7 separate regions of the Homo sapiens genome follow, and all the other regions are reported to be linked to region 1. The links are microRNA targets in miRTarBase. Many come from high-throughput screens and were not tested one by one. Region 1 holds a microRNA gene; each other region holds the end of a gene's coding sequence.
The links. Region 1 holds the annotated microRNA hsa-miR-603 (CACACACUGCAAUUACUUUUGC, at 2,524-2,545, opposite strand). A microRNA usually pairs through its seed, bases 2 to 8, with sites in the 3' UTR of a target mRNA and lowers its output. Matches are read on the target gene's strand: a 7mer-m8 pairs with bases 2 to 8, a 7mer-A1 pairs with bases 2 to 7 and ends in A, and an 8mer does both.

Region 2: miRTarBase lists ELOF1 as a target of hsa-miR-603. Seed matches in the 3' UTR shown: 7mer-A1 at 1,150-1,156 and 7mer-m8 at 1,231-1,237.
Region 3: miRTarBase lists PCDH7 as a target of hsa-miR-603. The part of its 3' UTR that is shown has no 7-base or 8-base seed match.
Region 4: the mRNA of FAM216B is a reported target of hsa-miR-603. The part of its 3' UTR that is shown has no 7-base or 8-base seed match.
Region 5: miRTarBase lists PPTC7 as a target of hsa-miR-603. The part of its 3' UTR that is shown has no 7-base or 8-base seed match.
Region 6: miRTarBase lists WNK3 as a target of hsa-miR-603. The part of its 3' UTR that is shown has no 7-base or 8-base seed match.
Region 7: miRTarBase lists CLEC14A as a target of hsa-miR-603. The part of its 3' UTR that is shown has no 7-base or 8-base seed match.

The regions. Positions count from the first base shown.
Region 1 is chr10:24,273,642-24,278,289 of GRCh38, reverse strand. MIR603 (microRNA 603) reads right to left here and starts at 2,605; the gene lies at 2,509-2,605. All of the region lies in intron 2 of KIAA1217, which reads right to left.
Region 2 is chr19:11,550,090-11,554,737 of GRCh38, reverse strand. It overlaps ELOF1 (elongation factor 1), which reads left to right. Exons shown (of 4, transcript NM_032377.4): 2 at 373-506; 3 at 657-727; 4 at 928-1,692. The coding sequence starts at 391. The coding sequence ends at 992. It overlaps CNN1 (calponin 1), which reads right to left. Exons shown (of 7, transcript NM_001299.6): 7 at 4,415-4,648. Among named protein-coding and RNA genes, the nearest start is that of ELOF1, 6.8 kb to the left of the region's middle. RefSeq lists enhancers at 113-312, 1,971-2,090, 2,510-2,804, 2,174-3,145.
Region 3 is chr4:31,141,603-31,146,250 of GRCh38, forward strand. It overlaps PCDH7 (protocadherin 7), which reads left to right. Exons shown (of 3, transcript NM_001173523.2): 3 at 871-4,648. The coding sequence ends at 1,247. Among named protein-coding and RNA genes, the nearest start is that of LINC02497, 27 kb to the right of the region's middle.
Region 4 is chr13:42,787,446-42,791,241 of GRCh38, reverse strand. FAM216B (family with sequence similarity 216 member B) reads right to left here. Exons shown (of 4, transcript NM_001318932.2): 4 at 1-2,651. The coding sequence ends at 2,452. Among named protein-coding and RNA genes, the nearest start is that of FAM216B, 7.8 kb to the right of the region's middle.
Region 5 is chr12:110,533,509-110,538,156 of GRCh38, reverse strand. It overlaps PPTC7 (protein phosphatase targeting COQ7), which reads left to right. Exons shown (of 6, transcript NM_139283.2): 5 at 1-13; 6 at 1,062-4,648. The coding sequence ends at 1,120. RAD9B (RAD9 checkpoint clamp component B) reads right to left here. Exons shown (of 11, transcript NM_001286535.2): 11 at 4,601-4,648. Among named protein-coding and RNA genes, the nearest start is that of RAD9B, 34 kb to the right of the region's middle.
Region 6 is chrX:54,195,233-54,199,880 of GRCh38, forward strand. WNK3 (WNK lysine deficient protein kinase 3) reads right to left here. Exons shown (of 24, transcript NM_020922.5): 24 at 1-3,421. The coding sequence ends at 3,092. Among named protein-coding and RNA genes, the nearest start is that of FAM120C, 14 kb to the left of the region's middle.
Region 7 is chr14:38,251,119-38,255,766 of GRCh38, reverse strand. CLEC14A (C-type lectin domain containing 14A) reads left to right here. Exons shown (of 1, transcript NM_175060.3): 1 at 1-1,767. The coding sequence ends at 1,217. Among named protein-coding and RNA genes, the nearest start is that of CLEC14A, 2.6 kb to the left of the region's middle. RefSeq lists an enhancer at 1-492.

The DNA.
Region 1 (4,648 bases):
AGGTTTCCGGCCTCACAGAGTAACTCTCATCCATCTTCTACCTGACAGTCTTTCAGAAATGAAGACTTTCCAGAAGCCAGTGGTCAGTCTGACCCTTTACACCGCCACTGTGGCTGTAATGTGCTTCTCCACAGTGTTTTGGCCTGCTCCAAAGTGGCTCATGCAGACCCTGCCTCTCCTCGCTACTTTCACACACAGCCTAAGAGGTGGCGTCATCACACTCCACAGCATCTCACCCATGACGGCGTCCTCGAGCTGCACAGACTGTGCGTCCGTCCTCAAAGGACAAAAGGCATAGGTCCATAGAGCTGCTGTCCAAAAGCATCACAAAGGGAAGCCAGCAAGCACTGCTTTCTATCACAGGGGAGAAGTTCCCAGCTGATTGCTGGCAGTGCTGCCACTGTCTTTTGCCCGTCAGAGGGTGAGTCAGAGAGAGGACTCAGGAAAACCTACTGTATTAGGCCATTCTCATGCTGCGATTAGGACAAACCTGAGATTGGGTAATTTATAAAGGAAAGAGGTTTAATTGACTCACAGTTCTGCAGGGCTGGGGAGGCCTCAGGAAACTTACAATCATGGTTGAAGGGGAAGCAAACACGTCCTTCTTCACATGGCAGCAGCAAGGAGAAGAATGAGTGCCCAGTGAAAGGGAAAGCCCCTTATAAAACCATCAGCTTTCATGAGAACTCACTCACTATTATGAAAATAGCATGGGGAAAACCGCCCCCATGATTCAATTACCTCCCACCAGGTTCCTCCCACAACATGTGGGGATTATGGGAACTACAATTCAAGATGAGAAGTGGGTGGGTACACAGCCAAACTATATCATCTGCATAGCAGGTGGCCTTGTCTCCCCATTCCTGGGCTCCCCCAGGGCAACCTGTCCCCCATCCCACTCACGAGGCTTCCCTCTAGGAAGCCGCTAAGAAGAGACCTGCCACCCACCTGCTTGCTCCACTTTGAGTGGGAACCACACCAGGGTCAACCTCAGAAACATCTGAAAAGTTGGAAGTAAATTCAGCAGTCTAGCAAAAGCAGTCTTCTGCAACTGAGGAATCCAGGTTGAGCGCTGCCATGACCTGTATTTGAAAAGCTGCCACCTTCCAATCAGGCCAGAGTTAAAGAGCAATTTGAAAAGAGCAAGAATTTCCAAGCTATAAAACTAGGGACATGATTCTAAGAGGATAAAACATTTTAAGATTGGTTTAAAAGCTTTTGAAAAATTTAAGGCCAGGCATGGCAGCTCACATCTATAATCATAGAGCTTTGGGAGGCCGAGGTGGGAGGATTGCTTGAGGTCAGGAATTTGACACCAGCTTGGGCAACACGGGGAGACCCCATCTCTACGATTTTTATTTTTTTTTTAATTAGCTGGACTTGGCTGGGTGTGGTGGCTCATGCCTGTAATCCCAGCACTTTGAGAGGCTGAGGCGGACGGATCACAAGGTCAGGAGTTCCAGACCAGCCTGGCCAATATGGTGAAACCCTGTCTCTACTAAAAATACAAAAATTAGCTGGGCGTAGTAGCACATGCTTGTAGTCCCAGCTACTCAGGAGGCTGAGGCAGGACAATCACTTGAACTTGAGAGACAGAGGTTGCTGTGAGCCGAGATCGCGCCACTGCACTACGGCCTCGGTGACAAAGTGAGATTCCATCTCAGAAAAAAAAAAAAAAAAAGCTGGACTTGATGGCATGTGCCAGTAGTTCCAGCTACTAGGGAGGCTGAGGTGGGAGCATCACTTGAGTCCAGGACTTCAAGGTTACAGGGGCTATGATTGTGCCACTGCACTCCAGCCTGGGTGACAAAGCGAGACCCTGTCTCTTAAAAATTTTTTGTTTTTAAATTCAAACCCAGTTTTCCTCAGGACTCTTATTAACAGCTATCTAAGGAATAGGAAGGGATGCCCTCAAACCGGGCAGAACGAGATGGAATTCTAAGTCATTTTGTCTTTTGCATTTCTGAAAAGACTTTCATTTTTCAAAGGACATCAAAACTGAAATGCCTTATAAATCCCTTTGTGTTTCTGCGTTCTGTTCAATGGCATCAATAAGATGGATGATCAGCAAATGGCATCAAACTCCATTTGTATTCTTATTAGAATAATAACACGTAAAATGATATGAAATGAAACAGCAGATTCCAATGACCTTGTAGCCCAATTCAATTACTATTTCACTAAATAACGACAAAACTGACAGTCCTCAAGCTGCTGAATTTATGAATTAAATTCAACTTCTCTTCTACATTCTGAGCAGGACTGAGTGGAAAAAGAAATGGTCAGTGAGGACTGGGGAGGAGTTTCCTTCTCTTTGCTATTTAATGCAACATCGCCAAGCCCACTGGAGGGAGGGGTATGGAAAGACAGTTTAAAAAGGAATATCAGGACCAGAAGGGAGAACTGATGGCCAGGGCCCTTGCTATAGTTTGCTCCTGCAGATGAGACACTGCTTTGGAAAATTTTATCATTAACCAAACTGCACTGATGCTAAAAGTCAATAAAGCCAAGTATTAAGTTGGAGCAAAAGTAATTGCAGTGTGTGCCATTACTTTTAAATGGGAAGCACTGCAATTACTTTTGCACCAAACCAACAGCATCAATCTTGCCTGCATCTTAAGCAAAGGCTTAATGAGAAAAAAAACATACTTGAGACTACTAAAGCATTATACAGTCAGTCCTCATTACTAGCAGATTCTGTATTTGTAAATATGCCCATCACCTAAAATCTGTTTGTGACCCTCAAATTAATACTCCCAAATGTTTGCAGTCATCATAGACATGGCAGGACAGTGGACAACTGGAGTTTCCCAACAAGCACGTTCCCAGGTGGCGTCTAACTAAACAACACTCTGCTTTTTTGTTTCAGTTTTCATACTGTAAGGAAGCACCCTTTCCACAGTCTTTTTAGTGCCACAAGTTTCGCATTTTTGTGTCTTTTTGTGTCTGTGTGTGCACCTGCATGCGTGTATGTGTGTGTGAGTGACTTCACTATTTAAAATGGTCCAAGCCAGGTGCAGTGGCTCATGCCTGAAATCCCAGCACTTTGGGAGGCTAAGGCAAGAGAATTGCTTTGTGACAGGAGTTCAAGACCAGCCTGGAATATACTAGTCATGTTCATTGGGGAATTAAGACCTCAAAAACATAGCCAGACCCTGCCTCTACAAAAAAATAAAATTAAAAAATTAGCTGGGCATGGTGGCGTGTGCCTGTAGTCCCAGATATTTGGGAGGCTGAGGTGGGAAGATCACTTGAGCCCAGGAGTTTGAGGCTCCAGTGAGTTGTGATTGTGTCACTGCACTCCAGCCTGGTCAAGAGGGCGAGACCCGGCATCTACAAATTTTTTCTTTAAATAAGAAAAGAGAATAAATTTTAAAAATAAGAAATAAAATGAAATGGCCCTTAAGTATGGTGTGGAAGTACTATTTGGCATTCCTAGGCTCAAGAAGGCTGTGATACACCTTACACAAAAAATAAGTGCATTAGATAAGCTTAGTTCAATGCTAATGAATCAATAATATATATTTTAAAAGGTGTCTTCAAACAAAAACACAGGTAAAATAAGGATTTTTGTTGATTGGTTGATAAAAAGGTAACCAAAGACTCACAGGAACCTAACCCTGTATTTCCCCTAGGAAATTCAGTATTAACTAATAAATTCAGGACTCACTAATGCAGTATTTAGGGCAAGTTTATAGAACATCAATACTGTGAATAACAAGAATTGACTGTATTTTCAAACTGCAGTAAAAATGCCATAAGTATGTAAAATAGGACTTGTAGGAAGACAACAAAGTATATTTAGATGTAGCAGGTTCATCTTTTTTACTTTTTTTGCAGATGTGAGAACTTGACAATTTCTAACCACTGGACTTAGAATGGAGAACACAGCCAATCTGGGTGACAGAGCAATATTCCGTCTCAAAAAAAAAAAAAAATTAGCTGGACTTGGTGGCATGCACCAGTAGTTCTAGTTACTTGGGAGGCTGAGGTGGCTGGTCATGAACTCCTGACCTCAAGTCTCCCAAAATGCTGGGATTATAGGTGTGAGCCATTGTGCCTGGCCAGCAATGGCAATATTTTCTTACTACCAACTCTCAGAAAACATACATTATTCTCCATAATTATCCAATAAATTTGGACCCATCTGAAAATAAGCATCAGTCACTTTTCAGTTTATACATGTATGCTATTAGTCATTACTCTGGTAATATGTGAAATGTAAATCATTGCCTTATTACTTACTGGATATGGGCTGTTTTTTGGTTGAGGTATGCGTCTAATTTATTGGTACTACATTAGAAAATGCCCTACACCAAATATCTGCTCTGATTGGACTAAGATCCTACATTTTTATATTTGGGAATATTGCTCAACTTGAGAAAGGCAAGATGTCCCAATCCCTGCAACAGTAACTTGGACTTTTTTTTTTTTTTTGAGACAGAGTCTTGTTCTGTCGCCCAGGCTAGAACACAGTGGCACGATCTCGGCTCACTGCAACCTCCATCTCGTGTGCTCAGGCGATTCTCCAGCCTCAAGCCTCCCGAGTAGCTGTGATTACAGGCATGTGCCACCACACCCGGCTGATATTTGCATTTTTAGTAGAGACAGGGTTTCACTATGTTGGCCAGGCTGGTCTCGAACTCCT
Region 2 (4,648 bases), not on the chromosome of region 1:
GGTCCTGGCATCAAGTAATCCTCTCACCTTAGCTTCCCAAAGTGCTGGCTGGGATCACAGGTGTGAGCCACCATGCCTGGCCTTGTCTCTGTTTTATAGACGAGGAAACTGTGGCACAAAGAGCTTAAATAACCTGCCCAGGTCACGCAGTAAGTGAGAGAGATGGGGTTAGAGCCTCGTCTCACCCCTTCCATCCAGAGTGGGACAGGGAATTGTCCTCCTGCATCAGGACTGAGGGCCTCGTCCCTCAAGGGCAGAGGCCCCGGGACCACGGTGCAAGTCCCAGACCCTCTTTCCGGCCTGCTTTCTAGAGCATTGAGCTGGGGCGCTGCGTGGTTTCCTCAAACCACTGACATCTGCCACTCCCCACAGGCTCATCCACCTGCAGACATGGGGCGCAGAAAGTCAAAACGAAAGCCGCCTCCCAAGAAGAAGATGACAGGCACCCTCGAGACCCAGTTCACCTGCCCCTTCTGCAACCACGAGAAATCCTGTGATGTGAAAATGTGAGTGGGGAACAGGGCAAGGGATCCAGCCTCCCCACTGCCTCTTCCCCGCTGTTCTCCATCCTGCCCCTTGCCTCCCTTGGTGAAGGCGTCATCACCCACAGGCCCAGGACGCATTGCTCACCAGTCCCTTCTCTTGGTCTGTTTCAGGGACCGTGCCCGCAACACCGGAGTCATCTCTTGTACCGTGTGCCTAGAGGAATTCCAGACGCCCATAACGTGTATCCTTGGAAACCTGGGCTTTTTCCAGAGGGTGGGGAGGGGGCTGGAGTCCGGACCCTGCTCATCTGGCCCACTGTGTGCCCTGGTGCAGGGCCAAAGCCGTCCAGAGGAACAGGTGCCACCTAGTGATTTCTGTGGGGTGAGAAGATGCAGGGCAGGGTTCCAATGCCAATGATCGCCCTTGACCTAAGTGGCCCAGATCTGTCAGAACCCGTGGATGTGTACAGTGATTGGATAGACGCCTGCGAGGCGGCCAATCAGTAGCGACACAGAGGACCCGCCCCCTGAGCAGCCCCGCGTACTGTGGATCCAGCTGTTCGGTTCTGGTCCAGAGACATTCCAGGGGTCCAGGGTGTGGGTCCTGGGCTGTCACAGCCGTGTGTGTGTGTGTGTGTGTGTGTGTGTGTGTGTGTGTGTGTGTGTGTGTAGTGGGTGTGCGTGTGGGTGTGGGTGTGAGTGAGTGTGGGTGTGTGTGGCTGCACGTGTCACTGGGGTGGCCGTGAGTGTGTGCTCACAGGTACGCGGTGGTGTCGGGTTCCTGGGCCTGAGGGGCCTGAACTGATCTCACTTGGCTCCGAAAGCCTTTGCTGTGTTCCCTGCAGCCCCTGGCCCCCCAGCCTTGGGGCTCTGGCTCCCCCCGGCGGAATTGGGGGACTGTTTCCTGACATCCTGGACAAGGGAAGCCCACTAGAGGCTGGAACAGGACCTCTCCAGCCTCCTCACCAGCACCGTGCCCATCTCAACTGGACTTCCCGCTCTCCTTCTCCACCTTCTAGTGCCCGTGGCCGGGGATTCAAAGCCGCCGTTCCCCAGGTCCCTGGGCTGGGCCCTGACAGGGAGCCGCCCCCCTCCCCATGGTAACCAGGAAGCCCGTTTCATGTTCAGTTGCTTTTGTAGAGGAAGCAAGGGCTGGGATGGGGACAGCTGTCAATCACAAGCCCTTAAATAAAGCAGCCAGCGCACATCCCTTGCTGTCCGTGATGTCTTGGGTTCTGCGTCTGCCTGGTCACCAGAAGAAGGAGAGGGGACCTGAGGCTCTGACGTTCGGGAGGTGGCCTGGTGGCCCATGTGACCAGCCCTTCAAACCACCCAGCGTTTTATTCAGTCAGTAAGCATTCAGGGTGGTGGAGCAGGCAGACATCTGGCCAGGTGTTTACAGCAGTCACAATAGGAAATGGGGGAGGTGAGACAGAACAGGTGGTCAGAGGAGGCTTCTGGGAGGGGCAGGCTGAGACAGTGACACCGTAGGGCCACCTCTAGCCAGACGCTGACCTCTGGCCTTCCTGCGTCGCCCCAGTGTCCTGACAGCCACTTTGTGGGGCAGGTGCCAAGCTAACCCCAAGTTCAAAGATGAGGAAACAGAGGCTAGAGGTGAAGGAGGTCACTGGCCCAAGACCCTACAGCCAGAAAGTGGCACAGGGGGGATTTGAACCCAGGAAACGAGGCTCCACAGCTTACAGTCTGACTTCTTGTGAGCCCAGAGTCCAGGCTGAGGGAACAGCTTACAGGCCGTTCTGGAGGTAGTGAGTGGAAGAGGGACACGGGAGGGAAACATGAAAGGGGCCTTTATTCAAGGGTGGTGAGGACTCTCAGAAGGCTGGTGTTGGGGCGGGATGTGTGTGGCCGATGGGGAGCACCTGAGGGCTGATGTCCCCTTAGCTGGTCGCACCGGTGACAAGGACCACAACACCCAGCAACCTGGGGCAGTGCCAGACCCTCCACCTGGCCTCATGAGCCCGGGTGGCAGGTGACCTGTGCTTCAGAGTCCTCGTTGCTACAGTGCAGGGGATGAAAGCACCTTCTTCCCGGAGCCATGCTGAGGATGGAAGTGCCAGGCATGGTTTGAGCGGCTCTGGGGCCCACCCAGGGCACTGACGGATGTGAACAGCGGGGGGAGACATTGAGCTGGCCCGGAAGCCCTGGCTGCCAGACTGGGCTGCTGGGTCTGGCCTGTGCACCCCCTCAGGCCCACTCTGCCATGACATGTCTTCCCTGGTTATCCCGCCACCTCCAAGATCCCAGGTAAGGTCTGCTAGCCCTGGCAGGAGCCGGCACACATGCGCAGAGTGGTGGACAGGCACCTAGGTTTAGGGTGATGGCCCTCTGGGATCCAGCAAAAAGGGGGCTCATTCCTCTGGCACCCGAGGCCCTTCCTGCCGCCCGCCCACCCCAGCCTCACAGGCTAAGTGCTAATATGGTGCTGTTTTCCCGAGGAGGCAGGGCCCTGGGCCAGGCCCGGATCCTCCTCAGCATAGCTTCCCCGCGCCGGCCCAGGGGGAGCAGGACTTGCGGTAGCCAGGCCAAAAGCGCCTGGAATCCGGTTTACGAGGCCCCAGGGGCTGCGTGCGTCTGTGCGCGGGTCTTCTGGTGTCTGCCTCCGCAGGTCTCCACGTTCCAGCCTCAACTCCTGCCCTCCCTGGGGAGAAGACAGCTCCGTGCCGCGCTCCTCGCTTCTCTGCCTCCTCTCCTCCTTGGAATCCTGATGGTTGGGGACCTCTCCCTCCTCCCGGGGATAACAGGGTCCCCTCTGAAATGTGAGGAGGTTGAGGCCCTGGACACAGCCTTTTAGAGTCCCGGGTTGGCAGGCTCAGCCTTAAGACGGCTGAGAGCGGGCGGGGCGCACAGAATTAACCGTGCCCTATGGTGCCCTGTGCCAGTCAGTAAAGGGCCATTGCCTTGGCTCAGAAGTGCCCCTCTCCCTGTCCCCTTTCCCCTCCCCACAGTCTGGGGCTAAAGGGTTCACCCTGCCCACAGGGCCCACCAGGACCCCTACTTGTCATCCTTTCTCTATTGATGCCTGGTCTTTACCAGCGATTAAACATGTAGAACATCACCCCATCTGGGGGTGTCATTTCATGACCACAAGAGGCTTACTGTCCCCATTATTTTGATGGGAAAACAGGTCTAGGGAGGGAAAGTGATTGCCCGAGGTCATCCAGGCAGCTGCTCTGTGATTCACATGCCATTTAGCCTGTCCCAGTACTCAGGCTCTTTGTCACCACCATCCACAAGCCTCTGGGAGAGCAGTGTGGGTCGTGTGTGTGTGTGTGTGTGTGTGTGTGTGTGTGTGTGCACGCGCGCGCGCATTGGCTCTCTGGCTGTGCCTTTTTTTTTTTTTTTTTTTTTTGAGATGGAGTCTTGCTCTGTTGCCCAGGCTGGAATGCAGTGGCGCCATCTCAGCTCACTACAGCCTAGATCTCCAGGGCTCAAGTGATTCTCCTACCTCAGCCTCCCAAGTAGCCGGGACTACAGGCATGCGCCACCACACCCTGCTAATTTTTGTATTTTTAGTAGAAACAAGGTTTCACCATGTTGGCCAGTCTGGTCTCGAACTCCTGACCTCAAGTGATCCTCCCATCTCAGCCTCCCAAAGTGCTGGGATTACCGGCATGAGCCACTGTGCCCGGCTGGCTATGCCTTTTTTACATGTCGTAGGGAGTGTGTACTGCCTGTGTGTGCATATCTGTGTGTGAAAGGGGGGAGTGTGTGTGTGTGTGTGGACTTTGCATGTGAGTGTGATGGGGTGCCTGTCCTGTGTCTAGCTGAGTGGCTACAGTGAGGTGTGTGTCTTAGGGTGCGTGTGAGTGTGTATGTACGTCTTAGGGTGCATGTGGGCATGTGTGTCCGTGCAGATGTGTGTGCGGGATATGGCGCATATCTAAAACAGAGCAGCTCTGAGGCCTCAGGAGATTTTACAGCCATTTATTGTGCTCCAGTGAAATAGAAAAAAAAGAAAGTGCTCTCATTACAAACGCCACTGTCACATCCACATAGTATGCCAGTCGCTGCAAACCAAACCGCGTGTGTCCGCTGGGTCTCTGGGCATGCAGTTTGCTCCCACTGCGGGAATGGGGTGGGGGCAGGCCGAGCCTGGGCTCTGGGGGCTTTGCTGGGGGAGCTTCTGGTCCTGGGGGTACCCA
Region 3 (4,648 bases), not on the chromosome of region 1:
TTGTTTCCTAAGAATTCTTTGTACATGATTTAGCCTTTTAGAAGTAAAAGTCATTTCCCATTCCATTGGACAGCACCATTAATTAGAGTACAGGCTAGTTCATCCAAAGTTTAGTAACTTACCCGTATTCACCCAGTACATTACATTTCAGATAAGATGGCCTGTGTATTTTGATGTGAACACATCAGCACATATTAGGTCATTTGGCATGGTAGGAGGGGGGTGAGGGGATGTGGGCTAGGGTGGGCAGGTGCGTGATATTGCTAGTATGCTTATACCTGTAACTACTGGTTCCTTGCTTTTTAGTTTTTACCACATAATGTGCTGTCAATTTAGGTTCTACTTATGAGTCACCCCATGTCTTAGAATGTATTTTAAATATAAGGTTTTGCATATTTGCATTCTATGAATAATGTATAAGCAGGAAGAAATCCAATTGGCAAAAGCACACCACTTCTGGGATAATTTATAAATCCAGAAAATTGTCTATTTGGATTTAATAATTTTTCTTATGGATGTGGAAAATATTAGCACCCATACAAATTTACCTATGTATTTAGAGCTTCTAACTGAGACCATCCTCATGTCCCTGTCCTGTAACAAACACACATATATCTGTTTCATCTACACACTTAAATGTATCATTTTGTCTACTTTCCTGTTCTATAATATTGGATGTCCTTGCAAAACCTTATCTTTGATGCACATGGGATTAAAAACTGTCCTATGGAATGATGAGCTAGAGGGTGTTGGGAAATGAGAAATAAGATGGTAAGGAATATATTTATATATTTCCTCTAATTTCATATAGATCAGGGGAGCCTGTTGAGGAGTGTCAAATACTAATGGCTTATTCTCCTTGGATTTCAGATTCAAGGCCTCTTCCAGATGTAGCCCTGACTGGGAAGTGCACTCGTGAGTGTGATGAGTATGGCCACTCAGACTCCTGCTGGATGCCGGTCCGCACTTCTCCGGAGAGGAAGAAGAGCCAGCCTAAACTGTCCACTTTCATGCCTGTTGATGAACGAGGAAGCCAGGAAAAGCTGGCCAATGGGGAGGCCGCCATCATGGGTGACCGCAACAGAAACCTCCTGAACAAAAAGTTGACCTCATCCTATGAGACCTTCAGTGCAGCTAGTTTCAGCAAAAATGAGGAAGCCAACCCTGAGGATATTCCCCTTACAAAAACAGGGGAATATAAGCCATCTCCTGTCAATACTCTCACTAGAAGAGAAGTTTACCTGTAGGCTATAAAGGAGCAACAGCAAAGTTCTTTACATGTATGAAAAGGAGAATAAGGGGCAAAAACCTTACAAAGCAAAACGTTTAATCACAAAGAGGGGGCTACCAAAGAGACAAAGCTTTGCCTGCCACTTCTGCCTCCAGATCAGGCCTTTAGTGATACTGTTAGCCTGATTCTACTGTACAATGTAGAAACCATCCTTGTTACTTGCATGTCTAACCCCTTCACTGATTCCCAACACTCACTTTCTCTTCCCCACCCCTCTCCAAAAAAAAAAAAACAAAAAGAAAAGAAAAAAAAAGGGGGATAGTTGCAAGTTTCTTTCACAGTAACTGTACGAAGCCTGATTAGCAGAACACAACACACCCTCATTATCCCTAAGCTGAAGCATGATTTTAGTCACTTTGATTTTGTTCGAGTGTCATCTGGCTGGTCAAAAATAAGCAGGACAGATAAAATGTATTTCAGACATACCATCAGAAAATGGTTTATCACCATCAAAGGCAATCCTTTGAAAGTGATAGAGTCCCTCTAAAGGTACAGTCCTTAGAAAGAGGGACTGTATTAAAAAGTATTTTGGGAATATCAAAGCTTTAATATTCCAACAAAGACTAAGAGAAAAACAATACTCAGTGGGTGATTGCAGTCCTAAATTGTCATATGTTGTTATTTTCAGGTCAAGAGCATCAACTTCAATTCCATACATTCACCAAATATTCTCAGTATACACACAGTCTTGATTACATGTATCAATTTCACCAGTTATGACTTCTAAAAATTATATATATTTTTTCAGAACAAGACCACTATTATTAACTAACTTGAACAATTGTATCATCCAAAGGCCAAAGATCATATGGCAGATCAGGGAAGTCATGAAGTTGATTTGGTCTTGACGTGGAAAACCATTAAACAACAAAAGCAACTGAACCCATGTATGCACAGAAACAATCAAACACTAGTTCATTTTATAGTGCCCAGGAAAATGTTCCTTCTTTTAAAATGGATTTTATTTGAAAGCGCAGAAAATGAAAACTAGTGAGATATATTTTTGGTATTATAATAGGCAATTGGTTGAGGTTCAAGTTTAGTTTCAGGTAATATTATCAGGGAAGATTCCATGTTTTAAAATAGTATTTATGGATCATGGGTAGGTTAAGAAAGATGCATTGGCATATAGTCTTGATAGTTAAGTCCACGATTATCATTTTAGAATCCAGGCTATGCTTGCTGCTCTTTTTATCCACATTTTAAATTACAATTGCATTTTTTACTTGTTCAGTGCACACTTTGATGCACCACAAGTGCATTAATTTTGAATCGTGTGCAATATAGAAATATTTTGAGACTCACAACATTGAAACAAGGTGACACCCTAGTTGACTTTATCACTAATGTGATTTGAACATTATTTAAACAAATCTAGACTGAACATGAAAGAAAGGAGTTTTGGGCAGTGACATTTTTCACAGAATGTATATCTCAAAGGTGAAAGCAGAGTTTTTCCAGTGCAATAAAAAGAAACAGAATATGCAGATTTTGAGCTACTCACTCTATAGAGGATAACCTAACACGGCTGAAAATTGAGCTGGGACATTCAGACGAAAGTGACAATCCATGGACAGAATAGGGAATAACAGGTGTGAAGAGAACAAACTTATCACTGAATGTTTGCAAGCTGGTTAAGGCATAGCCTTGATGGCTCTCTAGCAAACTGTAGAAACAATGTAGCTTTGGGTAGTTTCATGCTTTGCAGAATTTCTTAGACTATAAAGTGACACAGCCTGGAATATAGGTTGATAATTCACTATAGGTCTTCAAAATACTTATCTTTGAAAACCGCTTCTCTGTTTGGTGGGGTACAATTTGGGGGTCATTTCCTTATGCTCTTTCTTAAATGGAGTTTTCATTTTGATGTTAGTTTATGTATAATAGGTAGGATGCAAAAAGATATGTAATTGAAACAAAAAACATTGGACTAAAATATCAGTAATTGAACATGTTTATGTTTGATTATTATTTACACTATGGAAAGATGCAATTCTAGTACTTTGTTAGGAAACTGCATTAAAGCAGTTCTGCCTTGTATAATCTGTAAGTACCTATTAAGACAAAATACTTCTAAAGATACTTATGAAATGTATACACATTTTTTCTTGCACGTTACAAAGAAAATACTCAATTGCATAACACGGATGTTTGACAAACTTTTTTTTTTTTAATGCATTTCTTTCTTTCATGAGACATTGAAACCACTGATAGCTCATTTCACCCTATCTTAAACCCTTCTCTTGTCTATAAAACTAATACGGGTCACACCGGACCTTCGGATTAATTGGATCCACATTCCCCAATGATGTTTGCACCCCATTCAAGATAGCCATGCCATTGTCATTTAACTCGTGAACCTCTCTTTAAAACTAAAATGGATGTGAAAGAATAAAATTCAGTGTACTGTAAGTATTCACAGTAATTCTAGTAGAATTAGCTGTCATAACATGTTTATTATATAATGAGCTGGCATGACACAGAAATATATTTTGTGTTTGTATGACTTTTATTTTAAATAGGTTAAATCTGGTGCCACTCCATATATAGAGTGCTTTTGAAAAAAAATCAATAAAAAGAAACAAAAAAAATAAATGAGTGAATGCAAAATAAGCAACTGTGCCTTTTATACCTGTTGTTACGGTAAAAAAACGGTTGTTGGGTTTGGACAATGAGGGGAAATGGGCTATTCCCAACTTTTTTGATCCTGTATATTTGTCCATGTTTATTTTCTGAACATAATAAATAATATATTAAAAATTTGCCTTCTGACAAACTCAGATAATGGACCAGTCTTAAATATTGTTATGTCATAAAGCAAAGTTAAGGCATTAATATGGGCTGCTTAAATCTGACTAGAAGATGAAAGCGTTTATTGTAAGTGTAACACAGAGATACTATCAGGAGTGAAATCAGTCCATTTGGCAAGGTAAAATACTGATTTAGAGTTTTATTCTTTATTTCTTTTTTGTTGTGTTTCTTTCAGCTATGGTTTCATTTTGGTTGTACAGTATATAAACCATATTTGTTTTCTGTACACAAGACTCTCAAGTGAATTTTGCATGCATTATACATTAGGACACATTTATAAATTAATGAGTAACTATATAAATTTATGTGTATTAAAACGTCTGTAGCTTCAATCTAAAATCTACTGCTCTTTCTGAATCTCCAGATATCATTTCTGTATGGTTTCTGACTGGCCTGCTGCCTGAGTTTCAGAAAACAAGGGAGGCATTATTTTTATGGGAGGAGGAACTAAGATGGTACTGAGGATGTCTGACTGAAACACTACCCTAGGAAGCTGTCTTGTAGGAAAATAGAATAAAACACACAGACCAGAAGAAATTGTCAAGA
Region 4 (3,796 bases), not on the chromosome of region 1:
TTTGAAGCTTACATATATGTATTATTTAAAACTCAACAGTAACCTCAGAAATTGTTTAGAACCTAGTTCAATAAAATATTTTGGGGGATGAATACTTTATCACTGATATTATTTAGAATTGCTGGCTCATGGTGGTAATAAAAAATAGACCAACTTGTAGTCAGCTTTATTATTGTTTTCAAATTCTTTCCAGTGTACCCTCTATTCCCTGCCCTTTGCGGGATAGACTTGTTGTCTCATCACCTGTCCTTGATATTCTACTGCTACTCCTCATCAACAATTGTGGGTTACTGGGACTCTAGAATAATATCACAAAGCCAGAGGCCAGTCTGACTTGCAGAATCTTTGAAAACCTCATTATTATTCAAAGAGTATTATTGATTGCCTACCGCAACCGGGGGCCATTCTAGGTGCTAGCAATTTCAGGTGAAACAGTCTCTGATCTCCAGGACTTAAGTTCTGATAATGTATATTGACATTGTGAGTGCAAGCAATAGCATTTTCTCCAACAGTTAAAAGTAGTAGCCTTTTCTAAAAGTTACAGGTTGTCCTCTCTTCCTTCCCCTTTGTTTATCTTTCTCAGTGTCCTCCCAGGTGCACCCCTTTCTCCCAGCACCATAACCAATCACATTTCTTTAAGTTTCAAGTAAGGTCTCAAGTGCAGGGGCATATTATCATCTTAGAAGGGAGAACCAACAAATAGAATCTTTTGCCCAACTTAGATCTATTTGTCCTTCTTATGGACCTGTGACATTCACCTGTCAATCTGCTCTTACAAGCCTCTATCAGATGCAAGGTGCTTCTGAGATTTTTGATACAGGGATGCAGCTTAGAATTGTAAGTGGCCTCCTTGATATTCTGCATCACTAGATAAGGCTTACACAGCAAATACCTATGCTCATCAAAAAAAAAAGTCTAAGATAAAAGTGCAGGCAAGCAGTTCAGAGGGGATAAAAGGCCCATTGTGAAAACAATGGGAAGGCTAGTATAGGCCAAGTTAGGTCTCCCACCAACCTCTCTGCTTTATGAGGGCTACCACGCAGCTCATCCCAGTCCCACTGGAGTCTTTTCTTCTTCTAAGCCTATGTAACAATTTCTCACTTAGAACTGTAAAGGTATTTAGAATACATGTCAGGGCCAGAATTTGCAGAGGTCAAGAAGCTTCTTTATGATTAAGTGAATGACCCCAGCAAGGTCAGTATTAGCTTCACCAAGACTTCTTATCAGACTAGTGGGCCAACCACACTTCCCATTCCTCCCAAAGAAAAGTCAGATAGGAGCTTGGAAGTAGTGCTGGACCTCAATACTAGTGTTCAGAATCTCATGACAATTTTTATATCTTATATGTTCATGATTGCAAAGAGAAGATAATGATTTTTTTTCTGATAATAATGCAGCATATTCCTTTCAGATCAATGTTAGCACATCCCTTGTCAATAAAATTTATATTCCACCTCAACCAATTCCTTTCATAGGCATCAGCTGATTTGAATGGGGTGACGTATTTTACAATGATGAGGAAGAAGCATTTTTTTGTTTTGACTTTACATGAGCACTGGTGACTGATTTTTAACACACACACACACACACACACACACACACACAAAATCTCTGGTGATGAAAATAACCATTAAATATAACTAATGCAATACTATGCCTTTGTATGATGAACTGACTCACTGCTTAGTATAGTTTTATGTGCTTTGCTTAAAACATTTGAGGCCACAGAAAGGTTGGACATGAAATAAAGTCTTCGGGGTTATTTCATATTCTTTTAAGAGTGTTTCTTCAGCTGCCAGGGAAAGATGTGTGCATGAATTCTCTTACCCATGTCAAGGCCAGTTACAGCTCCATAAAATCAATTCAGCTGTGGTAGACTGATAAGTGCATGTTTCAAGATGACACAAAGTGATCAAGCCAGGTGAGAACTAGAAGAGCTTTGGGGCTAAATTAAATGCCATTGCCTGATGGGGAAGAGGAGAGGAAGGAAATGCACAGGCCAATTGTTGCTGGGATGATATGATTTTGTAAGCCCTCTATGATCAGTGTTAATCCTGTGTTGTTTTGTATATTTTCAAAATGTATACATGATAGTTTGCTAGAAATGGTCACCCAGTGACAGAGGACCTGGCCCTTTCTGGTCACTTGTCCCCTTTCACTGTTTTGGGGACTTCTCTAGGAGGTTCTAATCCAAAGTAAACTTTTACTTTGAAAGCTTTAAAAGTCCTTTTACTCTACGGATGTTATGTGGAAAGGCTTGCTTACTCTCGGCTCCATTGCTCTTAAACCTCTTGGTCTTGCTGGCAAAATTTATATGAATCAGAGATTATTTTTAGGTCTGGGGTTTATATTAGAAATTATTCACTGTCATTCAACAAATATGCACAAAGCACCCACTAGATACCAGGGATACATGGGCAAACTTCCTGTTTCTGAAAATGCTGCCAAGTCTCAGTTCCTGAGCACTTGGCGCCTTTTACTTTGGGCCCTAGGTAGAACCACAGATACAGGTAGTACTGATGGACATCTTCTTGTCATGGCTGAAGTTTTCCGGGGAATGGTTCTTTGAGGAGCTACCTTGGCTGAGGCTCTCTTGGTTGAATCTCTAAGTACAAGAGCATAAGACAAGGCTTCCCGTTGAGTAATATAGCCTAGGGGAAAGAAATGAGAGAAACTTCAAAATCAACAATTTTACAAGGCAAATAAGAAAACAAAACTGCAAATATTTACTTATGTGTACAAAATTTATTCTACTCTTGTGGTAAGCATGCCCAGATTATATGATCTTTGAAGATTGGAAATATATTTTTCTTCTTTTGTATTTCTCATTCAATAAGTTAATAAACACTTGGTCGTTGATTAACATGTCAGATTATTTGGAAAGGGACTTGAGCCATGATATCTTCGATATCAAAACTTTCTTCAAACCAGAAAGATATATTTGATCTCTCTCAGTGTTTCTCAACGTGTAGTCTGCAGACCACCAACTGGTGAATCATTGGGCTGAGGCCACATGCTTTTTCAAAATCCTTATTAAAAATGCAGATTTATGACTCTAAAGACCTTCTGAATCAGAAACTCAGAGGGTTAATCTTGGAAATCTGCATTTTAATAAGGTACCTGGTGGATTTTATGTGCACTAAGCATTGAATACTTCTGTTTCTGGATTCATTGGCTTCTATGCAATTTTTGCTCTAAAAACAAAGCTACTAGATGATGCTTCTAGTGACACTTCAGACAATCATGGAGACCAGACTGAATCTCGGCTTCTCTGTTTACTATTAAATACTTGCATGACCCTGGTCAAGCTATTTAACTTGTTCATGTTTTAGTTTTCTCTTCTGTAAACTGTAGGTCATAAAGACACCTGCCACATACAGGTGTTTGAGTGTTAAATACAATACCTGCAAAGTTCTTAGAAGAGCACCTGACACACAGGAAGTCCTCAATAAAAGGTAACTATTGTTATTGTTTTTATTAAATCAATTGCAAAAACCATGCCTTCCTTTTGTGTAAATATAAAAACAACAGCATAAAGTAGATGTGCTAAAGCCAAGTGAGTAGATTTTTGTTTAAAAAGCACTCTAGTGGAGTTAGGAGAACGGTATGATGAAGGGCAGCCAGCAACTGAAAGCATTTCCTGCAAGAAAAGGGACTTTACAACAATTAGCCTTTCGGTAAGTTGATGCTTATAATTTGTGAAGGTCTTTCACAACCATTATTTCATTTGTGCTTTGTAAAATCTAAAGAGGTTGAAAGAAGAGGAGAGACAGCAGAGGATGGGGCTGAAAATGTA
Region 5 (4,648 bases), not on the chromosome of region 1:
TTGAATGTGAGAGGTAAGCATTCTTTGGGAAGGTCATAGGGACTGACTGGGGACATGGTGTCAGTAGAGTGGAGCATTCTGGGCTCTGGGTGAGACTGTGGAGGTGTCCTCTCCCAGCCCCCAAACTGTGCACTTGTGGCTTTCAGCAAGGTCAGGAGGATGAGAGCAAGTGCATTTCGTCATGTCTTCCCCACACAGCATGCCCTTCAGAACTGAACCTCATTGGCGGCAGAGGCAGGTGGAACCTGAAGCCCTTTATTGCCGCCACCGCAATGCTTGGACCTGAACCCAAAAGGCTTCCGAGCTCTGCCCAGAGTGCGTGGACATTCCTAACAGTTTAACATTCAGCCTTTCACGTGTCTGACATTTCGCTTCTCCCTTCCTCTGGCTTTGTGGGACTCAACAGTATTTGCCTGACAAATTGCCACAGCAGGGTTTGAAGAGGGAAGCAATGTGAAACTGCCCTTGACTGAAGACTTGTCCTATCTACAGCATGATGTGTGACTTTGGGAGCAGGCCAGTGGCTCCGTCTCAGGGCTGGGACATGTTGGTGCTAGCATATCAGAGCTAGTAGAATTAGTTTCTTGTTGGTATAATTTTATGACATGTGAAACATTTCTTAGTCCTCCAAAAAATGTTAAAATAGAAAAAGTGCATGCCATAGCTGTTTGGCAGATTAGAATACAAGGCTATTCCTAGTTTCAAAACATTGGATATGTCTGTCTAAATTAGGATTGTGGGTATAGAAGCATGTAACTTTCTCGTCAGATTCACTGTGATTGATGTGAACAGAGGGTGTGGTGGCTGTTTGAATAGAGCTCCTGTTGTAAAGGAGCAGGGAAGATTTTTTTTTTTAAGCTTCAGTTTCATGTAATTTCTTGGAGTTTTGTTTAACTGTTTTTTTTTAATCAAATATTTTTTTCTTTATTCTACTAGGGTATACTGACAAACCAAAACTGCCTGGAATGCAAGCATTTGTCTCCTAGTACTTAATTTAAGTACACATTTTTTATTGACTTTTCCTTTTAAAATATACTGATAGGTTCTCATTTTCATTGTAGGTGGAAAGCCAGATGACATCACCGTCCTTCTTTCAATAGTGGCTGAGTATACAGACTAGCTGAGGTGTCAAGTCCTGCCTTTCCTTTCATCATCCCAAATTTCCCCTGCCATGTGTGCTGATCCTGCTGGCAGGACCACATTTCTTTGCCACTGATCTCAATGGCCAGTGATGTAAGTCTTTTGCCTGTCTTCTTGAGACTCGTTGAGATCTTTGTTGAGAACCACTACTATCATTCACTAGCTCATATCTGCCGGCAGCAATTGAAGAGATCCAATATTTGAAGATTGGCCTTCATTTCTCGATGTTCTTTCCATGATGGGGATGGAGGTGTTCAGTGCCACCGTGGCTGTTACTTTTCAAAGTAGTTGAAGTATTGAAAATGAGTAATGTTGGTAAAGTGAATTCAAAATCCTAGTATGCTAAAGGGATGGTACAAGTCTAACACAAATTGTACGTAATGATACATCTACTAGAAACATACATTATTCATCAAAAGAAATGTTACATGTGTACTCCACAGGCATAGTCTTTGTTATGATGATTGGTGTGGCTTTATGTCTTTGTTATAAACTCCTATTTTTCAGGGGCTTATGATTCTGCTCTAAAACATTGCTCTGGGTTATACAGTTTTGATCCCAAAAGCTTTTTTGTTACAAATCGGGAGAAAAATCCATTTTAGTTCTATGGATGGAAATATTTCATGCTTTTAAAAAGATGTTTGTGTTCCTGTGGTTAAAGTTTTGGCAGTTTATTGATTAGTCCAAATCACAGGCTAAGGCCTGATCTCCAGGAGGGGTAGGGGAGACACTTTACCAGTATTTTTTTATGGAAATAATACTCAAGGTTGTAAAACCCCTCAAAGCCTAGAAATTTAATTGTTATGGCTGAAATTCCTCCTAGTTGTCTGATAGAATGCCCCTGAATGGGAACTCTAGGTCCCAAGGCCTGAAGGGTTGAGAACAGACAGCTGTAACTTTGAATTTTGTTGGCTTTCAGTGGTCATGCTACCTACCCATACTCGTACTCTCAGACCTTTTATTAGTAGCCTTGCTTTCTATAGAGCATGCACCAAATCCAGTGAGTCCATGTGGAGAGAGCACTGTGTGCGCAGCGGCAGCAGCACAGACGTCCATGAGGAAAACTCCCAGTGATGATCTGACATTTACAATTACCCCACATGGAAATTTAGGGGTTTCTGAATCAAGCTTAATGTTTACAGTTTCCAAATAGCCATTTTGCAGTGTATAGTTTCCTTACAAAACTACCCCGCATTCAGTTTTCACATTATCTGCAAGCTGAAACTTATTTTTAAGTTTTGTGTACAAGTTGACTGCTGTAAAGATATATATTTTTGGGTCAGTTTTTTTCCTTCATTAACTTGGTGGTAGAAAAAAATATATACTTAGAAATCCTTAAATTAAAGCCATGTTTTATATATAAGTCAGGTAACATTGGTGTATAGATGAGAATGCAATTAAACCTGATGAGAATCTACTTGAGAATATAGAAAGTCTTTCTCTAAAGGAGATACTGACTCCCTGGTTTATTGCATTAAAATTTATGTTTGAGGTTACCTCAACTTGTTTTAAAAGATTTTGTTTTGTGAATTTGTACTGTATATTTGAGTAACTGTCAGGCTTTTATTTAAAATTGTTTAACATGTACCATGTACATGTCATTACTATATTTCAATGCATCATGCTTGTAACAGGCATTTCATTTATAATAAGAATGAGTTATTCATTTGTAAGCCGTTCAGTAATTTATCTACTATTCCTAAATTGGCATAATGTTAGATAATCTATTTTGAATCACCTTTAATTACATGTCAGAATGCCTTAACTACCCTAACTTGACAAAACAGAATTCTTTGGTAGACGCGGTGGGGGCGGGGTGGGGGGTCTGGACGGAGTCTCTATTTAAGGAGAAATCATCATGCTATGATAAAACACAGAAGCATGAGTGGCAAGTGGCGGGGTATTTATTTTGCACAAACTATTTGCAGTCTCTGTGTATTTAAAAAGTAAAGAAAGTTGCATCCAGAAGGGTTTTGTTAGAATGAATACATTTATATTAGGACTGACAACTTCAGCTCTTTTGTTTAGGTTTTCAATTATTTTTGGTAAGAGTATGTAGCCTTATGATCTGGATATATTTTGCATTCATTTTCCAACGCCTACATTTAATTCCTGGTAAGAGCAGTGCTCGTCAAGTTTCTGGTTTTTCTCTGCTCTCATTTAACCCGTCAAACACAATCTTTGTAAAGCTAGATTGGTGGTGTTTTATACAACTTATTTACTCAGCTTACCTTTTTGAGAAACGATTGTTAGAAATTGACGATGTGTTTGTTCCAGTGATACTGAAAGTAGTGGGGGCAAGAATTGAGTTTCACAGTGGAATTGGCTTTGGATCTGGCCTATAGATTAGTGACATAAAATATTTTCTCTATTTTCCCCTGTTCTTTTTGTGTTATGCACTTAATTTTATGACTGCCGGGGGGGTCAGCTGGAGTGCTGCTTAACAAGTATCTCTCCTACTCTCAGTGGTCAGAGGCTGTGTTGGACCCATAGTAGAATTTTCCAGGTCACAGACCCAAGCTTCCATGGGTTGTTACTGTGCTGTACCACTTGGTGGGTCTGATTCTGAACCTGATGTGTGTGTTAATTATATTTTAAGCAACACACACACACACACACGCCTCATGTAATGGACTTTTATAACAAAAGAAAAAATTTGGATTTCTAATTTACAAATGGCAAATTATTTATCCCTCTCTGGATGCACCAAAGACCAGTAAAGTTTATAGCTTTTCCATCTATATTTATAAAGCAATACTGTATTATAAAAATCAATATTTTTATCACATGCTTGAAATTTTTATTTTGTTGTTTTAAAATGTGCACTCTAAACATATCAGAACCTTATTTCTTCCTATGAACTTAAGCTGCCTGCGCACAAAAAAAAAAAAAATTTACCAAATGGAGATGCAGTAGAGTCCATAGGCTCTAAAAACTAAAAGAAATGGGATGCAGGGGGAACAAGTTATTTGTCCTGAGTTACTGTACTTGCTTGACATGGTTGTTGGGTACTAAATCACAAAAGAATCCATTCCAGGTATGCATGTCTGGGGGTTGGGCTGTGTCTAGATTAGAAACTGGGTTTCAAGCTTTGCATGATGGGAGAGCGTCCTCTCCTCTATCAGCTGCGTGTGTTCTGGATAGGACAGTAGCCCGGAGATGGAAACCACCTTCAGTACCATTAGCCCACCATACCAAGTAACAAGTTAGGCAGGAATCGTGGGAATTTATTGAGTCAGCTTTGAGTGTTTGAGAGAATGTAAACAAGATTGGCTCGAATTGTAAACGTTTGTACTTTGGATGAGTTCATGGTTCTTTAGGTCACCTTAATACCAGCTATCTTTGGTAGAAGCTACAGCATTCAGTTTCTCTGGAAACTGTATCACATTTTTGCATTTTAAAAATTTTACAGTATCAAAAAACCAAAATCTGCTTATGAAACAAAACATGAAGCAGGACATATTTGGATTCTATTTATTTAAAATTAAATTCTTTGCAAAATTGAACT
Region 6 (4,648 bases), not on the chromosome of region 1:
ACATGGTGGCTGGACATACAGACTATCCTCTGAATAAACTTTACAAGCAGGATGGTTAAGTACAACCATTTTCTCCTCTACAAGAAGGAAAATGAAAAGGACAGGTTTGTGTGTTTTTTGGAAAGGAAGGCCCTTTTTATATAGTAGGCTCTTTGTTAAGAAGGGAATTTCTGAGCTTTACCTCAAGTTAATTATTTCTGGGGAGGAAAAGTACCTCAGACAAGGATGAAAATAGCACTATTATATGATTTAGCAAAATTATGAAATAATGCAAAAGCCCTGGATAGAAAACTAGCCAGTATTTACAGTCAAAGTGACTATAATCTGAACCAAACATGTAAGTCATGGGAAAAAATAATTTTAATAAAACCCCACAGTGATGAGAATAACATTGTTTTCTCCATTTCTGCACAAGCTCACTTTTTTCTGTATTTTTAAATGTACACATGTTATATATACATAATGTATACATAACATATATGATAACCCGGTTACTGCAGTCAGCATGGAGACAGCAGTACACTATTCACCATCTTCAAACTTTAGAAGACTACTTTTCTTTCCAGCAAAAACCTGAAAAGATTGTAAATATTACAAGGCACTGCAAGAGTCTGCAGGCAAACAAGAATGATGAATTATATGTGGAATAGAGGTGGTGGCCAAAGGCAGAACATAGGATGTAGAGCAGTCATTAATACATGTAATTGTACATGTCAGCCATGGAGCTTTTTTCATCCTGGGGTACACTGTTTAAAATGATTGTGACTAGAGAAGAAGGGGTCCTAAAATCTGCAGTATTTTCACTTTATAGGTTGTATGGCTCGGTGTAATTACACAAAGCCAACTTTTTATAATGAAACACAGGCAGTTTTAAAGAATTAGGGATTTTAGGAGCATTGTTTTTATACATATGGAAAACAGTGCAATGCAAGCATTTGCATTACACTAATGTCCTAAAATCACTTTAAACTGCAAACCAATACTGTACAAGAAATTTGAAGAATCTGTACTTAACATTTGGAAAGACTCATACAAAACAGATCATGTTCTATGAAAAGAAACAGTGGATCTTATCAACAGCAATTCTCAAAATGCTGCCCTAGATGCCTCAAATTATAGCGACAGAATCTTCTTGATAATGGATGTGATCCTCAGGTAAGCAACATAAAACACATTTTTTTTTTTTTTTGGAAAAGAGGTACTTAATGTCACAAAGTAGACTGTGCAAAAAAAAAAAAAAGTACACCCATTAAGTTTTCGTCATTACCTGGCAAGCCCATGGGGTATAATTTTTAGAAGAATACGGAGGAAAATCTGTTAACAGTAATGTTGGGTAGCAATTTGGAATGTTTACTAGTAGACAGAACTCCTAATTAGGTAAATGTGTATTAGAAATGACCTTAAAGTCTTCAGAGTGGAAGGTAAGTAATTTGAACATGAATACTTAGTTGGTAAATAACATTTTAAGAATTCTATTTAGGTTTCACAGACTGAGCATTAGGTAACCCTGTGACTAGCCTTTAACATTATTATAGTTAACCTTCTTAAAAACCAAAGGTGTACATTTTGACATTGCCTCCCCTCCTCCTAAAACTGGATAAAACCCAGTAAAGTGCAACTTGACAGTGATCTCTCTCAGATTCTAAAGAGGCTGCCAAACTCATTTAAGATCTAAAATCATCTAAGATACTATAGATACTAAAAAGAAATTCTAACAACTAAAAATTGTAATTAAAAAGAGCTAAGGACAACTTAAATAGTATCCTTCTAGGGTCTACTATCTCACTGCAGGACAGTGTATACCCCACATCTCTGAGAACCCTGTAAAGCCAGTGTTTCATATGTAAGTCTCGAAACCTACTGTGTCAAGTAAATTTCACTTCAGAAGAATGGATTGAGGTGTAGCTTTAATCCCCCTTGTTAGGAATACAAGGATTCCCCCCAAACGAGATTCATATCAGCTGCAATATATGCCTTGCAAAAGAATGCAAGACAAACCAATGCCTCTCAGATGCTCAAAACCAATGTAGTATGCATGTGAGAAACAAGGAGACAGCTGCTTTGAATTATTACTGAAATCGTAAAACAGCAGCAGTATCTGCAGAATCAAGGAACTGTTACAATTCTGTTTTTTCCCTTTCCCTCTGTCTCACCCAAAACAAGGCTTCATCCTACTGCTGTGATGACGGGAAATCACATTTAAAAAGGGCTCATGTTCTGTATTGGTTGACAAAATTATTGTAATTTTTTGGGGGGGCTAAGGAGGGCGGATCACAAGGTTAGGAGTTTGAGACCAGTCTGGCCAACATAGTGAAACCCCATCCTCTACTAAAAATACAAAAATTAGCCAGGCATGGTGGCTGGCGCCTGTAGTCCCAGCTACTCAGGAGGCTGAGGCAGGAGAATCGCTTGAACCCAGGAGGGGGAGGTTGCAGCAGTGAGCCAAGATCACACCACTGCACTCCAACCTGGGTGACAGAGAGAGACTCCATCTCAAAAAAAAAAAAAAAAGTGATTCTAATTTTATACACCAAAACGTTTCCTGCAGCAAGTTACCCTGCCTTCTGTGAAAGGTAAACCTAAGACAAACATGTGAAGTGAAGATCCCATAAGACTCTGGCTGATGGAGGGTCTCAGTTCATCCACATTTGGGGAGAATCAATCTAAATAATTTTTAAACATTTTTAAAGAAGAGTATCCAGCTGCAGATAGCAGCAGTTAAAAAAAAAAAAAAAAAAGGCGGGGGATGGGGAGCTTCTCAACAATTCATGGAAAGTGTCCTGGAAATGGTAATGCTCAAGCTGAGCTTATTAAAGCATTCTGAACAGTATTTTTAAAAAATCAAGTATCAAAGAGGATAGAATTTGAAGTGAAAAAACATTTCTGTGTGCAGTGTTCTATCTGCAAACTGCACATTTCTACAGAATGATGAGCTGTATCAAATACCACACTGGAACAAAAAATATATAGTCTAAAGTAAACTCAAATGAGGGAAAATATGACAGAACCCAAGAGGAAGAAACTTTAATATCTTGGGTGTCCTGAAAATAATTCTGAAAAAACCTCCCTTTTTATCACCATCTACTCTGATTCATTTAGGACCAGGAGGGATTGTGGCAGGATTCTGCACTGATGAAGTTGGAAATGCCTGCATATTCATCCCTGGCTGGAATGGTCCCCCAGATTGGGCGGGAATTACTACAGATTGTTGTGTTGTTCCTGAAATTCCTACCCACTGTACTGGATACCCCGCCCCCGCCACAGCATTATACTGACAAACGTGAGGCATTCCATATGATGATAATGGCCCAGGAAATGAAGGGAGTGAGAGTCCTTGTGGCAAGGAAGTTGGGACAGCTCCACGGATTTGGGACAGAGAAGAAATCCATGTTGATGTGTAGCCCATAGTAGACGGAGTATTCTAAGAAAAACAAAAATAAAAACAAAAGATCAGTTTATTTGGTATAGACTTTTATCAGTCTATATTCCTTCCTATTCTTTTTTTTTCTATTGCTGCTGCACAAATGAATATTCCTTCCTAGTCTTTTTGGCATACTATTCCTATTGTTACTATTAGGGACTACCATTTTTGGAGCACCTTTCTGTGTGCTAACCATAATTATGTACCTTAATTAATGCCATCTTCATAACTGCCCTGCCTTACATTTTTATAGTTATTTCCATGCATACATACATAGAAAGATATTTGACATGATGTTTATCTAAAGTTAATGAAAATTATTTCTGGGTGGTGGGATTTGAAGGTGATATTTTAAATTTTGTACTTTTCTGCACTGATTAAATTATATAATGAACATTATTAGTTTATAGATAACCTGATTTTTAAAAAAAGACAAATTGGAGAGGTTATACATTTTCTCCTGGATATTTCAAAGGCATCTCAGAAACAAATGCCTAGAAATCAAATGTGTGATCTTCCCCTACCAAAGCACACTGTCTGCTCACATTCCGCATCTCGGTGATTGGTACACTAGAATAGCATCCAGTTATGGGAGCCAGAAACCTAGCCTTAATACCTCCCCTTCACCATACATCCATTCCATCACCAAATCTTGTCCATTTAATCTCTTAAGCATTTTTTGGAATCTGTTCACTTCTGTTCAACTCAACTTCTCCCATTTTCCAGACCAGTTAAGAGTTACCATGACTAACTCTTAACTGGTCTGCCAACATCTACCCTTACCTCCAATAAATAATCCTTTTCTCTTGCTTGAGTCAGAGTCATTTTTTCAAAAAACAAGTCTGATCATGTCAACCCTAGGGCTTAAATGGCTATTTATCTTTCTTCAAATACAGACGGCTGGGCGCGGTGGCTCACGCCTGTAATCCCAGCACTTTGGGAGGCCAAGGCGGGTGGATCAGCTGAGGTCAGGAGTTCAAGACCAGCCTGGCCAACATGGTGAAACCCTGTCTCTACTAAAAACTCAAAAATTAGCCAGGTATGGTCGCGAGCGCCTGTAATCTCGGCTACTCAGGAGGCTGAGGCAGCAGAATTGTTGAACCTGGGAGGCATAGGCTGCAGTGAGCAGAGATCGCGCCATTGCACTCCAGCCTGGGCAACAAGAGTGAAACTCCGTCTCAAAAAAAATAAAAACAAACAAACTAACAAAAAATACAGATGAAGTTC
Region 7 (4,648 bases), not on the chromosome of region 1:
GCTCCAAAGACCTGCTGTTCTGGGTCGCACTGGAGCGCAGGCGTTCCCACTGCACCCTGGAGAACGAGCCTTTGCGGGGTTTCTCCTGGCTGTCCTCCGACCCCGGCGGTCTCGAAAGCGACACGCTGCAGTGGGTGGAGGAGCCCCAACGCTCCTGCACCGCGCGGAGATGCGCGGTACTCCAGGCCACCGGTGGGGTCGAGCCCGCAGGCTGGAAGGAGATGCGATGCCACCTGCGCGCCAACGGCTACCTGTGCAAGTACCAGTTTGAGGTCTTGTGTCCTGCGCCGCGCCCCGGGGCCGCCTCTAACTTGAGCTATCGCGCGCCCTTCCAGCTGCACAGCGCCGCTCTGGACTTCAGTCCACCTGGGACCGAGGTGAGTGCGCTCTGCCGGGGACAGCTCCCGATCTCAGTTACTTGCATCGCGGACGAAATCGGCGCTCGCTGGGACAAACTCTCGGGCGATGTGTTGTGTCCCTGCCCCGGGAGGTACCTCCGTGCTGGCAAATGCGCAGAGCTCCCTAACTGCCTAGACGACTTGGGAGGCTTTGCCTGCGAATGTGCTACGGGCTTCGAGCTGGGGAAGGACGGCCGCTCTTGTGTGACCAGTGGGGAAGGACAGCCGACCCTTGGGGGGACCGGGGTGCCCACCAGGCGCCCGCCGGCCACTGCAACCAGCCCCGTGCCGCAGAGAACATGGCCAATCAGGGTCGACGAGAAGCTGGGAGAGACACCACTTGTCCCTGAACAAGACAATTCAGTAACATCTATTCCTGAGATTCCTCGATGGGGATCACAGAGCACGATGTCTACCCTTCAAATGTCCCTTCAAGCCGAGTCAAAGGCCACTATCACCCCATCAGGGAGCGTGATTTCCAAGTTTAATTCTACGACTTCCTCTGCCACTCCTCAGGCTTTCGACTCCTCCTCTGCCGTGGTCTTCATATTTGTGAGCACAGCAGTAGTAGTGTTGGTGATCTTGACCATGACAGTACTGGGGCTTGTCAAGCTCTGCTTTCACGAAAGCCCCTCTTCCCAGCCAAGGAAGGAGTCTATGGGCCCGCCGGGCCTGGAGAGTGATCCTGAGCCCGCTGCTTTGGGCTCCAGTTCTGCACATTGCACAAACAATGGGGTGAAAGTCGGGGACTGTGATCTGCGGGACAGAGCAGAGGGTGCCTTGCTGGCGGAGTCCCCTCTTGGCTCTAGTGATGCATAGGGAAACAGGGGACATGGGCACTCCTGTGAACAGTTTTTCACTTTTGATGAAACGGGGAACCAAGAGGAACTTACTTGTGTAACTGACAATTTCTGCAGAAATCCCCCTTCCTCTAAATTCCCTTTACTCCACTGAGGAGCTAAATCAGAACTGCACACTCCTTCCCTGATGATAGAGGAAGTGGAAGTGCCTTTAGGATGGTGATACTGGGGGACCGGGTAGTGCTGGGGAGAGATATTTTCTTATGTTTATTCGGAGAATTTGGAGAAGTGATTGAACTTTTCAAGACATTGGAAACAAATAGAACACAATATAATTTACATTAAAAAATAATTTCTACCAAAATGGAAAGGAAATGTTCTATGTTGTTCAGGCTAGGAGTATATTGGTTCGAAATCCCAGGGAAAAAAATAAAAATAAAAAATTAAAGGATTGTTGATAACCCAGACTCAAATATCATTGCCTTCCTCCAGGAGTAATTAGGAACAGCTGAGGGCATGCTGGGAGTAAGCAGCAAGAGTGCATTCTGCTTTTAGATTGAGGGAGAGGTCCTTAAGTTCCTCGAATGAGACACAGATCTTTAAGAACTAGTAACTTTTTCATTGATTCTTTTATCCTTTCTTTTCAAAGTCACTGCTACTTGTGTGCTTTGCTATAAATCGAAAGTGTAGTGTTGCCAGAATTGCTGGCTCTGGAAGAAAATTACAGTTGACCACCAGTTCAAGTGTTTACTTTATGTCCATGCCCAAGGAAAACACATAATTTGCGTTTTCCCTTTCCAGTGTTTGTGCTTTCCAGCGTAATGACCTCCCCAAGCAAATAGCCCTCTCCTGAACATCAAGATGCTCATCCTCATCTTCAATTATGGTGATGTTAATTCTCAATTAAAATGTTAATGCTAAGTATTGATTTGCAATCTTCTGGTTGCATCAAAGAAAAAGTAAGCTGGTTTTCCTCCAAAGTTGCTAAGTTCTTGTGCATTTTTCAACCCATGGAAAAACTTGAACACCAAGCCATTTTCTTTTTCTCTTGATAAGAATGTGTGCAATAACAATACTTGCTCATTTTGGAGTGATTATAATCTTACAAGTGTTTACATGGGCAAAGGCATGGTAAACAGTTTACCATAAGAAATAATAGTATAAGAAATAAGTGACAAATTTTAAAAAATCTATCATCTTGTTATAACTGGGGGGTATTAGAAAGTAATCTAAATGAAGCACTCCCATGAAAAATAATTAAGACATAATAAAAATCACTGCCTCGTGGAATCAAAGTCCCTAGAAGATATCCCACTTTTATTAGTACGCTGAGACTTTAAAACTAAGAGTGTGGGGGTTGGTGCATGCAGAGAGGCAGAGAAACAAGCTTAGTAACAGGGAGGAATGAAAACAGAAGCTTACACTTTATTTTCACAGAATTATTTTAATGTTTTTGAGTGTACAATGTATACAATGGAAAATAGACTTACAAGTCGTAAGTGACCAATTATAAAATATTACTAAAAAATTAAAACAGCTCAATCCATAAATTCATTTCCTAAATATAAATATATATATTTAGTATTATAACATTAAAAGAATGAAACAATAGGTAATTTGCCTCATATACTAAATATGTTTCTAAATAGTTACACTTAAATAAAATTACAGAAAAATTAGAATTAACAACATTCAGGGGAATTTTAAATATTATTTTACAAGTGAAATTAAAAATCAGATAAGTACAGTAAATGGCTTGCCCATGTTCCCCAACCTGACTTGTCAGAGTATATCTCAGTTCATCTCAATCTTGGTGTTTTAGCTTTCCTCTTCACATGATCTCTCAGTAGAGAAGGTAAAAATTTGAGTAGAATATATGATGCTTTCTTTTGTAATTTGAAAAATAGCTTTATCTATAAGTGAGCTGAACTGTTTGTGTGTGTGTGTGTGTGTGTGTGTGTGTGTGTATACATAGTCATGCATTGCTTTACAATAGGAATACATTCTGAAAAATGTGTTTTTAGGCAATTTCGTCATTGTGTCAACACCATAGCACGTACTTACAAAAACCTAGGTGGTATAACCTATTACACCCCTAGGCTACAAACCTGTATAGCATGTTACAGCACTGAATACTGTAGGCAGTTTTAACACAGTGGTAAGTATCTCTGTATCTAAACAGATCTAAACATAGAAAAGGTACAATTAAATTACAGTATAAAAGATAGAAAATGATACACTTTATTGTATAGGGTACTTACCATGAATGGAGCTTTTTAAAGGACTGGAAGTTGCTCTGGGTGATTCAGTGAGGAAGCGGTGAGTGAATGTGAATGTGAAGGCCTGGGACACTTTATAAACGCTATACACTTAGGCTACACTAAAATTATTTTAAAAATTTTACCTTCAGTAATAAACTAACCTTAGCTTACTGTAACTTTTTTTGCTTTAAAAACTTTTTAATTTTTAAACTTTTTGACTCTTATGTAATAACACTTAGCTTGAAACACAAACACATTGTACAGCTGTACAAAAATATTTTCTTTCTTTATATTCTTATTTTATAAACATTTTTTGAAATTTATTTATTTTTTTTACTTTTTAGACTTCATTATTTAAGGGGCCTATTGAAGTCTCTGTTATTATTAGGTTGTCTATTTCTCCTGTCAATTCTGCCAGGTTTTGTTTCATGTATTTTGGGGGCTCTGTTGTCATGTGCTTGTACGTTTATTATATTTCCAGACAGATGAGCCCTTTTATCGTTATAAAATGTCCGTCTTTATCTTTAGTGAGAGATCTTGTTTAAAATCTATTTTGTATGGTATTAGTTGTCTTATGGCTGTCTTTATGCTTGGTATGGGCTTTTTACATCCTTTAGCTTTCAACCACTTAAGCTTTTGAATCTAAATTGTGTCTCTTTTAGGCAGCTCATATTTTGACCATTTTTTAATAATCCATTGTTCAGTATCTGCCTTCTGATTGAAGTGTTTCGTACATGTGTGTTTAATATAATTACCACTAAGAGAGGATTTACACCTACTGTTTTCTGTTTGTTTTCCACATGTCTTATGTCTTTTTTGTTCTTTTATTTCTTTATTATTGTTTTATTTTGTATCAAGTAAATATTTCTAAAATTACCATTTTAATTCTCATATTGTCTCTTTTCCTTTTGTAAAGTTCTTTTCCAAGTAATTACCCTGAGGATTACAATTAATATCTTAACTTAAAAACTATATAATTAGGATGAAGATCAACTTAATTTTAATAGTTTACAAAATTTTGCTCCAATGTGGCTATATTCTTTTCCTCCTCCTTTGTGCTATTCCTGTTAGTCAGATTATATCTTTACACTATAACAATTTTATAATTATTGCTTCATGCAGTTTTTTTAAGAGACAGGGTCTCATTCTGTCACCCAGGCTGGAGTGAAGTGGCACAATGATAGCTAAT